Linked DNA regions of Homo sapiens. The protein of the gene in region 1 purifies or fractionates together with the protein of each later gene. This does not show direct contact. Each region holds a gene or a part of one and is shown on either strand. Other genes may lie near its edges.

Evidence for each region.
Region 2: the proteins of HOXB6 (region 1) and PRRC2A purify together in Homo sapiens (affinity purification with mass spectrometry; one large-scale study listed by BioGRID and IntAct). This does not show direct contact.
Region 3: the proteins of HOXB6 (region 1) and AHCYL2 purify together in Homo sapiens (affinity purification with mass spectrometry; 2 studies listed by BioGRID and IntAct, with this or other methods). This does not show direct contact.

What each region holds. Positions count from the first base shown.
Region 1 is NC_000017.11:48,598,619-48,602,137, reverse strand, and holds part of HOXB6 (homeobox protein Hox-B6), read left to right. Parts: exon of another isoform or gene 1-63; intron 64-474; exon of another isoform or gene 475-710; intron 711-1,592; exon of another isoform or gene 1,593-1,691; intron 1,692-3,519. UniProt on the Homo sapiens protein: Sequence-specific transcription factor which is part of a developmental regulatory system that provides cells with specific positional identities on the anterior-posterior axis.
Region 2 is NC_000006.12:31,623,631-31,627,281, reverse strand, and holds part of PRRC2A (protein PRRC2A), read right to left. Parts: intron 3,551-3,651; coding exon 3,373-3,550; intron 3,022-3,372; coding exon 2,922-3,021; intron 2,833-2,921; coding exon 2,760-2,832; intron 2,112-2,759; coding exon 1,968-2,111; intron 1,823-1,967; coding exon 1,671-1,822; intron 1,491-1,670; coding exon 1,411-1,490; intron 1,263-1,410; coding exon 1,120-1,262; intron 511-1,119; coding exon 420-510; intron 301-419; coding exon 84-300; intron 1-83. UniProt on the Homo sapiens protein: May play a role in the regulation of pre-mRNA splicing.
Region 3 is NC_000007.14:129,406,495-129,410,145, forward strand, and holds part of AHCYL2 (adenosylhomocysteinase 3), read left to right. Parts: intron 1-2,981; coding exon 2,982-3,052; intron 3,053-3,363; exon of another isoform or gene 3,364-3,651. UniProt on the Homo sapiens protein: May regulate the electrogenic sodium/bicarbonate cotransporter SLC4A4 activity and Mg(2+)-sensitivity. On the contrary of its homolog AHCYL1, does not regulate ITPR1 sensitivity to inositol 1,4,5-trisphosphate.

The DNA.
Region 1 (3,519 bases):
TTGATGTCTGCAAGTGAGTGCCGATCCCCTCCTCCATTCTCGATCTTTTCAAGCGAAGTCTACCTAAATATGATTTGGGAAAAATTTGGTAGTGGGACTGGGGCCAAATCCTTAAGGAACCACACCGTCGTAATTTCCGTTCCTGTTGGACCCTCCACACCGGCTTAACTCGACCTCCTTCCCAAGAGGGGGTGGCCAGGGCTAGGCTATGCGCCTCTGCTGCAGCGTTTGAATATTGGCCCCTGTCTCACGGGTTACTGATTAGCTTGGGCTTTCAAGCCGTAGGAGGAAGCTCTGGCAGTTCCTTTAAAGGTGCTGTGGTCCCCGTTCCTGGGTGGGGGTGGGGTTCCAGGAAATTGCCTGCGGTGCCAGGCAAACCAAGGTGTTGCCAGAGTCTGGCCGAGGGCTAGAGGAGCTGACGAGGTTAAGGGGCCTGGTGGTGCTGGGGACAAACACTGTGGCTGCAGCCCTCACCCTCTTTCGGCGCCTCTGGAGCAGCTCTTTATAGCTTTCCTGCGGCGAGGTGACTTTCTGGTGGCTATAAGGCCCGACTCAAGGAGCTGCTCTATAGGAGGCCCTGAGGGAGCCAGCCCTAGAAGGTCCTTGGCCCCTCTGAGATTTTGCTTTTGGGCAATCCAAAGGACATGTAGAGAAGTCAAGCTGGTACATGGTATTGAAACACTTCAGGGCCCTCAGGTTGTCCCCTGGACCTGCGGGTAGGAAACCGGGAGAGTGGGTTCAGCACTACTGCTCACTCCCCTAAAGATCAAAGAGGATGCCGCTCCTTTGCATAATGAAAATGAAGTCTTTGTACTTTGATTTGGAGGGGCCGATTTTAGGGCAAAGTGTCTCATCTAAACAGCCTCCCTCAACCTATGGGAGTGATCACTCAGTACCCCTGGGAACATTTATTTATGTTCCCCAAACCCAGAGAAACAGAGTCCAGGACGAGAATTGAGTTGAAATATTTTCATCCCACCCCACCCCAGCCAAAGTTGGGGGTGGTGGGAGAAGGTGCTCATCACCTCAAAGAGCTGAGGGAGAGGGCTTTATAGCTTAGAGGAAATTGGAAGCCTGGACAATGTCTCAGCACCCTCCCACACACACCACACCACACCACACACACACACACACACACACACACACGCAAATATCCCTCCTGAGGTTACCTATCAAGAATTTTACTCCCGAACTGAACACAACTTAGGAAACATTTTCCTGGGAGCTGGAATGTGTTAGCTTGCCCACAGGACTGCAGACTCACAGCATAGAAAATTACAATTATAAATCCTGCCTGTGGGGTATCTGTACAATCCCTCTGTTATGTACTCAAGAATTGGTACACACTTCTATCCATCTCTCTGAACACACACTTCCTCATTGAGGCAGGGAGAGACACCCCAGACTGGCGGATGGCTGAGCCCGCTGTGTATTTACATATTCCCCCAAGGAGACAGACAGAGGGCGGTGGACCGAACCACAGACAGATTCGTAGGGATCTGGCTCCAGAAAGGAGTCGGTCTCTGGCCTGCCCTGCCCGCCTGCTCTTTTTCCCAAACAAACGGATCAGACGAATAAACGCTCATAAATACCTCTGGGCTTAGATAAGAGCGATGAGGCGCTATTTTCTTTCATGCCCGACTCCAGGCGCCCAGGCCCGCCTGTAGTGGCTCCATCTCCAGACAAGCAACCTGCAGAGGTGAGGTTAATTTGGGGGCTGTGACTCTAAAGATAAGGCAATTATTTCCCTGCTTCTGACACAGGGAAATGCTCCCTTCCTCACCAGATCTTATTTTGTTCAGACTTCACTGAGAAAACCACACTATTTAGTGCTAGGATGGAGACATTGTGGGCAGGGAGGAGGCAGGGAAGGCTGAGGCCCAGGGCTCAGCCTCAGCAGTAGGCAGGGAGGTGCATGCAGGTACTCTCTCCCACTTTTCTCCCCCTGTTCAAATGGCCCCTAGTCCTCTCTAGAAGCAAGCCCAGCCATACCTAGATATGGAATATTTATCCTTCTTCATTATCAGGGGGTTTAAATTTGTTTTCTTAAATGCTTATCAAACACTCCCACAGAGTCAGGTTAGGAAGTAATTGGAGGCCATCTAGGGATGGCTATTTTGCCATTAAGGTACAGCCAAGAAGTTGCCCTGAGTTTAGAGAGCCTTGGAGACCACGTTGCAACCAAATAAGTTCCCACCCTTGGTGATCCAAGCTCAGTCCCCTGCCACCTTCCCTAGTGTCTTGTACCATCTTCAGTGGGCAGAACTTGGCCAGAAAAAGGAGCCCAAAGGAAGGACAAGGCAGAGGAGGGTCAGCCTGGCCTGACATCTGACTTTGTTCCATGCCCTGGCCCCTTCTTGTCCCCAGGTGTGAAGGTTGTCACCCTTCACTACTTGGCCTGTGTATGTATATTAGAATGTTGGGAATGCACTGTGGCCCTGTCTCCCAGCCTGGGCTCAATGCTTATTTTCCTTGGATGAAAGAGCCAGAGACATACATTCTCTGACACACCTAAATTTGTAAGGCGGCAAAGCTGATGATACAAACACGGGGTGTGGGAGGGAATTGTAGCGATGCTGAGATACAGACAGAAGGGAGAGGGGATGCTGGCTGATGGCTGGAAGCAGCCTGCTGAGTCCCCAAGAGAACGCAAACGACCTTCTCTCCCTATCAAACTAAAGCAAAAACCAAGTCTTGGGAAAGAATTAATTTTAAAAAGAACTGGCAGCTCCTACAGAGACTTAGAAGAGGAGTGAGGATGCATTTCTTCCCAGTGGTCTCTGACTGCCTCAACTATCAGGAGGGTTCAAAGCCCACAACTGGAAGAAGAATGATTTCTTCCTTGTGCCCAGATTTACTGGGACATCCCTGATTCCTGAAAATCCTATAGCCCAGGCTATTCTTAAGTCTTTTGGGATTGTAGAGGGTACTGGAGTGAGGGTTGCAGGCAGGATAGGGATCAGACAAATAAAGCCACCTAGGCTGAGGGATACCCCTCACTCCTTCACTCCATATCACCAAGTGAGGAGAGGGCTAGTCCCTTTCCCCAGTGCCCCTTCCCCTGCCAAGGGTGAGCAGCTGCATACTAGAACCAGGCAGAATGTTTTGGGCAGCCACCCTCGTCGCCGCCTTCCAAGAAGCTCCTAGTCTAGCCACAGAGTCAGAAGGGGAAGCTTGGGCTCAGTCCCTCCTGCCAGCTCCTCCTCTTCTGGGTCTTCTAGGCAGTGGGATCTGGCCTGCCCCCTCAGACCAGAAGGGTTGTGGAGAAGCAGGAACAATAAGCCGAGGCTTGGAGGAGACAGAGCAGATCTGATAAACAGGAAAAACGATGTTCAAAACCTGGGGAGGAGGGTGTTTCTTCTTTGCTTATCTTAGCGGAGAACTCTTCTCACCTTCTACCGACACAAAACCCTAGAAACAAACCTTCTTTAGTTCTCTCTCAAGGCGATTCGGAGACATTTACCCAACCCTCCCCGGAGAGAAGGGGTCGAAGCAACGCAGGGGTTAACTTTTCTGAAA
Region 2 (3,651 bases), on another chromosome or scaffold:
TCTATATCACAACCGCTTCAATTACTCAGCTGACACCAATTTCCCACAGCTGACCCTCTCAATCCCTTATTGGAGACACTCACTGGGTAGTCCCCAGGGGGGCCCCAGTTCCCGGCGGGGCCCCGGTGAGGTGGGGGTAGGGGAGGCTTTGGGGCAGGAGGTCCCGGCTCTGTCTCTGGAGGCCGAGAGGTTTCTGCCCAGGCCGTCTTAGGAGTGGGCGGTTCGCTGTTGGGGGAGTTGCCCTTTTTGCCATCTGCTTCAGGGGGCCGTTCCTCACCAGAAGCTGATTGGGAATCCCTGCTGTGAGCAGATCAACAGTGAAATTAAAATCAGCTGCAACTAATATACTCCTCTAAGAGTATATTACCAAAATACAAACCAAGACCCCCTCCTCTTCTCCCCTGATGGCCCTAACTCACTGGCCCTCAGCACCCTCCTCATCAGAGTCTCGCCCATCTTCCTCATCGCTGAACTTGAGCTTTTCAGTGTAGTCAACCTCTTCATGGGCCCCTGAGGGGAAATATGAGTATTAGTAACCCAAGCATTCTGCCCTCCAATCTTGGGAGGTAGTCTGGAACTATGTAACAAGATGGACTACCAATGCCAATATCCTTCCCTCCGAAGTCTAGATCCACCAATGAAGTCTTGTCATTCTTACTCCTCTCACCACTTTGCAAGGACTTGGTATTCCCCATCCATCCTCCCCTACTCTTTTTTTTTTTTCCTTTTAAAAGTCTCGCTCTGTTGCCCAGGATGGAGTTCAGTGGCACGATCATAGCTCACTGTGACCTCCAACTCCTGGGCTCAACTGATCCTCCCACCACAACCTCCAGAGTAGCTGGGACCACAGATGCACAGTCCACACCCAACTAAAAAATTTTTTTTTTTTTGTAGAGGTGGGGGGTCTTGCTGTGTTGCCCAGGCTGGTCTTGAACTCCTGGCTTCAAGCGATCCTCTCACCTAACACTCCCAAAGCACTGGGATTACAGATGTGAGCCATTGGGCCTGGTCTTCCTACACTTCAATGTCTGCCTTTCACCCACATAACCCTGTATTTTTTTTTCCTCATTAGGTTTTGCCTTTCAAGATCCAAATTCTTGACCCTTAATATCCACTTACCTGCCCAACCATCATCATTCTCCTGATCCAACTGATCAAACTCTTTGAGATTATCCTCTTTGAGAATAGAGGGACGACCCACAGGCTCTACTAAGCGCATTGGTGGCCCTGAGCCTCGGGGGCCCGCCACACGGGGAAAACGGCTGTACACAAAAAAGAAAATGAAATATGGCATGTTGTATAACCACATGCGAGACTGATCCTAGACTGAGCCTCCTGGCTAGAAAACCATCTCCTCCCCCAATAAGCTTCCCCTGCCCCCAGCCACAAACCCAGACCTGGATTGCTCACCTGGGCCCATCAGGAGTGGGGTATCGGTAAGGCCCCTGGGGTCCATAGGGCGGAGGGAACGGGAGATATGGGGGATACATCTGTAAAAGGGTCCAACAGTAGCTGCTCAGAGGGACAGTCATATACCCTTCTAGCTCCTTAAGCCTGCTATCAATCATCCTCCCACCCTCCCTTCTATCTCATAGGTCAAAGACTAAGTCCTGATTCCTAGCTCTCCAGCTTCCAGTGTAATCGTTCCAAGACAAGACACCAAGACTCACGAAAGGCGGCATCATTCCGCGGTAGGGAGGGAACTGGGGTGGGCCTGAAGGCTGTAGCCCACCCCGGGGATCATGACCATGATGAAGTTTGGAGTCCGGGCCCTCCAGCTCATCAGGGCCACGCCCACCTCCGTCCCTCCAAGTTGTAGAATCTGTATTTTGGAAAAGGTAGAGAGAGGTATCAATGATTGGAGGACAAGTGAACACAGCTGAAAGTGATGGGGAGGAAGGTGAATAAGCCAGCACCTAGCTCTGAGATGCAATAGGTAATGTCTTGGCCAAAAGGCAGCCACTCACTTTGGGGGCGGAGGCTTGGTCCGGGCCCAGACGACTGTTCGGCAGACTCCCTTTCCTTGGCAGCCTTGTCCTGGTCGCCAGCCGCCTGCAGGGTCGGAAATTCCTCTCGAGAGAATCGTGACAGTAGGCTTGATGCCCTTCCACCTATTAGGATGGGGATGCAGAACAGGAGACAGAAGACATTTCCTGAGGACATGCTATAAAAGTGGAAGACTCTGGCTGGGCGCGGTGGCTCACGCCTGTAATCCCAGCACTCTGGGAGGCTGAGGCGGGCGGATCACGAGGTCAAGAGATCGAGACCATCCTGGCCAACATGTGAAACCCCATCTCTACTAAAAACACACAAAAAATTAGCTGGGTGTGTTGGCGTGTGCCTGTAGTCCCGCTACTCTGGAGGCTGAGGCAGGAAAATCGCTTGAACCCAGGAGGCAGAGGTTGCAGTGAGCCGAGATTGCGCCACTGCACTCCAGCCTGGGTGACAGAATGAGACTCCGTCTCAAAAAAAAAAAAAGTGGAAGGCTCTGACAGGTACCAGACCATCAGGTTTCCCGCCTTCAAACTCACCCCCCTACAGAATAACTGCTTATTCCCCAAGGAGGTCAGTTCTGGCACCACTACACTCCATCATATAAGACTGAGACTTAAACTTGCTCATGTGCCTCCATGAAACTGAATATGGGTGGTCCTTGATTTAGCCAAAGAGGACCAAGGTCACTTGGCTGAAAATACAGTGCAGGGTTCATGCATCCCATGGTGCCCAGACACAGCTCCCCAATTAAGTGCTGCACTCACCATCTCCATGTGCTCCATGGGTGACGCTGGCTTGTGCCCAGGACTTTACCCCGCTTGGAACCAAAGGAGTGTTCTGGGGAAGTGTTCAGAAAGATGATAAATGATGTGGGTGGGGCAGCTATGAACCATTCTTCCTCCCCACCCCTCCAGTTCTCCAGGTACCTCGGGGGCTGCTGGGGGTCGTTTCGGCTGGTTGGAGGCAGGCGTCTGTGAAGCCGGCAGTGGCTGCGATTCCGGCGGCTGAGCGGTTGAGGCATCGGAACTGAGGGGACAGAATGGGAAGGTTATTCACACCTGAGATGCCTCCCTGACTTCTCCAACTGGTGGAGACTCAGGACTGAAATCATGCCCATTGCTACCATTTACAAATATAAGGACAAATTAATTTTGTCATCCTTTGTAGGCTGTTGTCTATTTTTTCATGCTCTCTCTCCAAGACAAAAAGCTAAAGTTTAGTACCATTCCTTAGTCATTTAACAAGGAACCTGCAATAGGTAAGAAAGGGACCTCTTCGTCTCTGGCTCAGACGTGGCTGGACTAAACCAAGCCCCAATGCTCCCTGAAGTTCAAGTTAAAATACCCATCACTCTAGGTCCCCCAAGCCTCTGTCTACCTCTTGGGGTCGGACTGCTCCTGTTTGCTTGCCCATCCTGTTCCGTCTTTTGGCACTAGTGAGACATTGGGGTCATTGCCTTTGTTCTCGGCTTTCAGGCTTGGAAGGTTGGCTGGAGGTGGCATACGCCGGGCAATGGCAACTTTCCCGAGACTCTGCAGGCCATGGCGAGGGGCAACTGGAGAACAAGACGGAGAGAGGGTCGAAAATGCCTCATGTGGGAGATCTGATGGCCTCCTATCCTGGGACACATTTATACATGTTGAATATTTTATTACC
Region 3 (3,651 bases), on another chromosome or scaffold:
CAATCTCGGAGCTGTCTCCAAAGAATGGCCTGGTTGATGCCACACTTTATTTTAGAGGAGCCCAGATCCTCAGAGATGCTGCCACTAACTCTAAGCATCTGTCTTTTAAAAAGGTCAAGGAGCTCTGCTTGGAGAGAGCAGAGACTATCAGAAAAGCGAAAATTTAGAAATCCTGTGGAGATAGTAACAGGGATTCTGTCAGCCAGAGAACAGGTAGCCCCTTACCTTCTCCATGTATGATACTTGCCTTTCAAATAATGATCAGAAAAGAAATTGGCAGGCATCAGATGCCTTCTGATGTGTTACACTGAAAATAGCCCTTCTGTGGTATTCCTCCCAAAAATGTATAACCTGAATCTAATTGTGAGGAAACATTAGACCAATCCCAGTTAAGGGTAAAATCTACTAACTCTGAGTGAAGCATATATGAGAATTATTTACACTAGTATTATAATTCTTAAGTTTGAAATGATTCTAAAATTAAAAGTTAAAACTTTTCTTATCTATAAAATGTGTGTAATCATACCTACCTCATAGGATTGTGAGAGTTCAGTAAAATAATAATTAGCATAGGCTGGGTGTAATGGGTTCATGCCTGTAATCCCAGCACTTTGGGAGGCTGAGGCAGGAGGATTGCTTGCGCCCAGGAGTTCGAGACCAGCCTTGGCAACATAGGGAGACCCCATCTCTACAAATAATTTTTTTAAATTAGCTGGGTGTGGTGGTGCATGCCTGTGGTCCCAGCTACTTGGGAGGCTGAAGTATGAGTATCACCTAAGCCTGGGAGGTGGAGGCTGCAGTGAGTTGTGATTATGCCACTACGCTCCAGCCTGGGTGACCCAGCAAGACCATGTCTCAAAATAATTATTATTCTATATTATACATTATATAACAAATACATAATTATATAAGGTACAGAGCTGCTGCCACATAATATATGCTCATTAAATAATAGCTGTTATTAAAATTGTCTCTTGCCATCCTCAGCAGGGTGGGAAATACCACTGTTCTTAAAAACTATTGCAGAGTCCAAGTGTCTGTAGCCTAGGGGAACCATCATCCTTCTGGTACACTAAGAGTTTAGGAACCTGAACATATTTTAATACAAATTGATACTGTTCAGATACTGAACAGTTCAGATTATCCTGTTCAGATTATCCTGTAGACACGAATTGATCACTTACTATGCATTAGATACTGTGCTATGTGCTGAGAATGAATAAGATGAATATATAAATGAGATAAGGTCCTGCTTTTAGAAGCACACAGACAGATAACCACTGTGCAGCAAAGTAAGTGCTGTCATGGAGTTAAACGGCACATGCTTCTGTAGGAGCATAAAGGAGAAATTGCTTACTGAAGAGCAAGGGAGCAGGGTAGAAAGAGATGTCAGCAGAGCTGAGTCTTGACATTTGTATAGGTGTTTTCTTAGTTTGGAAGTATATTCCAGGTACTGGGAACATGTGTGTTGTCTCCAAGGAAGGAGATAGCATGGCAGATTTAAGAAGCTAGAAATATTTTAATGTAGTTGGCAGATGAAATACATTTGGGGGAGTGGTACTATCTAAGGTAGGAGTCATGGGAGTCATATGTCAATATAATCACATATCACTGTAAGTATTTGGGTCTTACTCTTATCCTGTCTTATCCTTAAGAACAGGCAGTCTCACTGAAGTATTTTAAGGAAAGGAAGCGACATGATCCAAATTGCATTTAGGAAAATCACTCTGCCAAATGATTTAGAAAGATGTAAACCTAGAGGCAATGAGATTGGGCCAGGGGTTACTATAGTAATCTAGGCAAGAAGTAATAAGACCTAAACTTAAGCAAGGCCAGTATGTATTAGAGAAGAGTAGAGAGATGAAAGAGACGTTTATGGAATTAAAGAAAAAGAGTCACCCAGATTTGGTGACAACTTCAATTCAGGAGAGGCAGCAAGGACATTCTTGTTTATATGGCTCATTCAGTTGGATGAACAGTGATGCTATTGATCAAGATAGAAAATATAGAAGAAGAAATAGATGAGATTATGGGTGCAGAGAAAATAATAAGTTTATTTTCAAACACAGTAAGTTTGAGATCCTTCTGGGACATTGATGAGGTGCTATCCAGTGGCTAATTTGATCCTTGGCTATGAAGCTTCAGAGAGATCTAAGCTAAAGTTACAAATGTAAAAATCAGCCATCTATCAGCAGTCATTTGCAGCCAAAGGAAGAGTATGGTTCTCTATACTGAAAGAATAGAGAAAAGAATAAAGGCATAACCCTGCAGAGCACCAATATCCAAAGGTTGGCTGAAGTTGAGGAGAGGCAATTAAGAGAAGTAAGAGGAAAACCAGGAGAGATGTATCATGGAGTCCAAGGGGTATAGAGTTTTAAGAAGGCAAATAATGTTTAATGTAGTAGAAGAAATCAAATAATATAAGAGTCTAAGAAGTTGGGCATGGTGGTGTATGCCAATAGTCCTGGCTACTCAGGAGGCTGAGGCAGGAGGATTGCTTGAGGCCAAGAGTTAGAGGCTGTAGTGCACTATGATTATGCCTGTGACTAGCTACTGCACTCCAGCCTGGGCAGCATAGTGAGATCCCATCTCTAAAAAAAAAAAAACACACACAGTTAAGAGTCTAAGAAATCTTGGGTTTGGCCTTCGGGGGATCACTGATGATCTTGGAGAGAGCAGTTTCAATGGGGTAGTTGGTTAAATGGCTAAGTGGCACTTTCTACAGTTTCTAGAAATTTGGTCAGGGAATCTCATGGTAGCCCCTGGCTCCCTATTATCAGGAAGAAATAAGTTCCGTGATGCAAACGAACCTTTTATTTCTGTCTTGTATGAACTAAGGAAATTGTTTGGATTTTTCACTTCTAAGAATAGTTCAGCTATCTCAAGAAATGACAGCAACTTGATATTAGCTTTTGAAGTCCTGTGTTAAAAGGCTCCCCAGCTGCCTGTTTAGGTTAATGGGTCATGCTTTATTTCAACAGTATGGATGGATTTCGACTGGTGAAATTAAATGAGGTCATCCGACAAGTGGACATTGTTATTACCTGTACAGGTATGATAATGACATTTTAAATGGGGTGGCACTTGGGAATGTTTTTATGGAGCAGGTGCAAGATGATTGGAAATATTCTGAAAAACCAAACTCTAAAAGCTAGAGAGAGATAGTAGCCCACAAAGCCAGCCAGTCTTTCACATTCTTCCTAATTCTTTAGAGCTCCGACCAAAGGTATACGATTAGGTTATTCCTATGTAAAAATGTTTCTCTTCACCCTTGAAGACAACTGTTATATCTCCATTCATCCTAGGAGATAGCTAGAGATGAGATTCACTTATAAAGTTTTATTTGGGAAGCCAGATATTTTTTTTTTCCAAAAATATATTTATTTTTAAAAACAGAAAATCAGATCAGTTTTATAGAGTCAAATTTTCAAGAGACAAACCAGAGTTTGGATTCCAGCTTAGAGTGCAAGTGAAGCATCAGTAATCTCATGCAGAAGATTTGTCTCTGCAGGAGGTACATTCTGCTTGACTGCAAGCACTCAATTCTCTAAATCTGGTTTGTACTTCTGCCATCATTTTATTCCATTCCAGCGCTCTGGCATGCAAGATAATCCATCTCTAAAATTCAAGACTTCCAAATTGAGATGAACG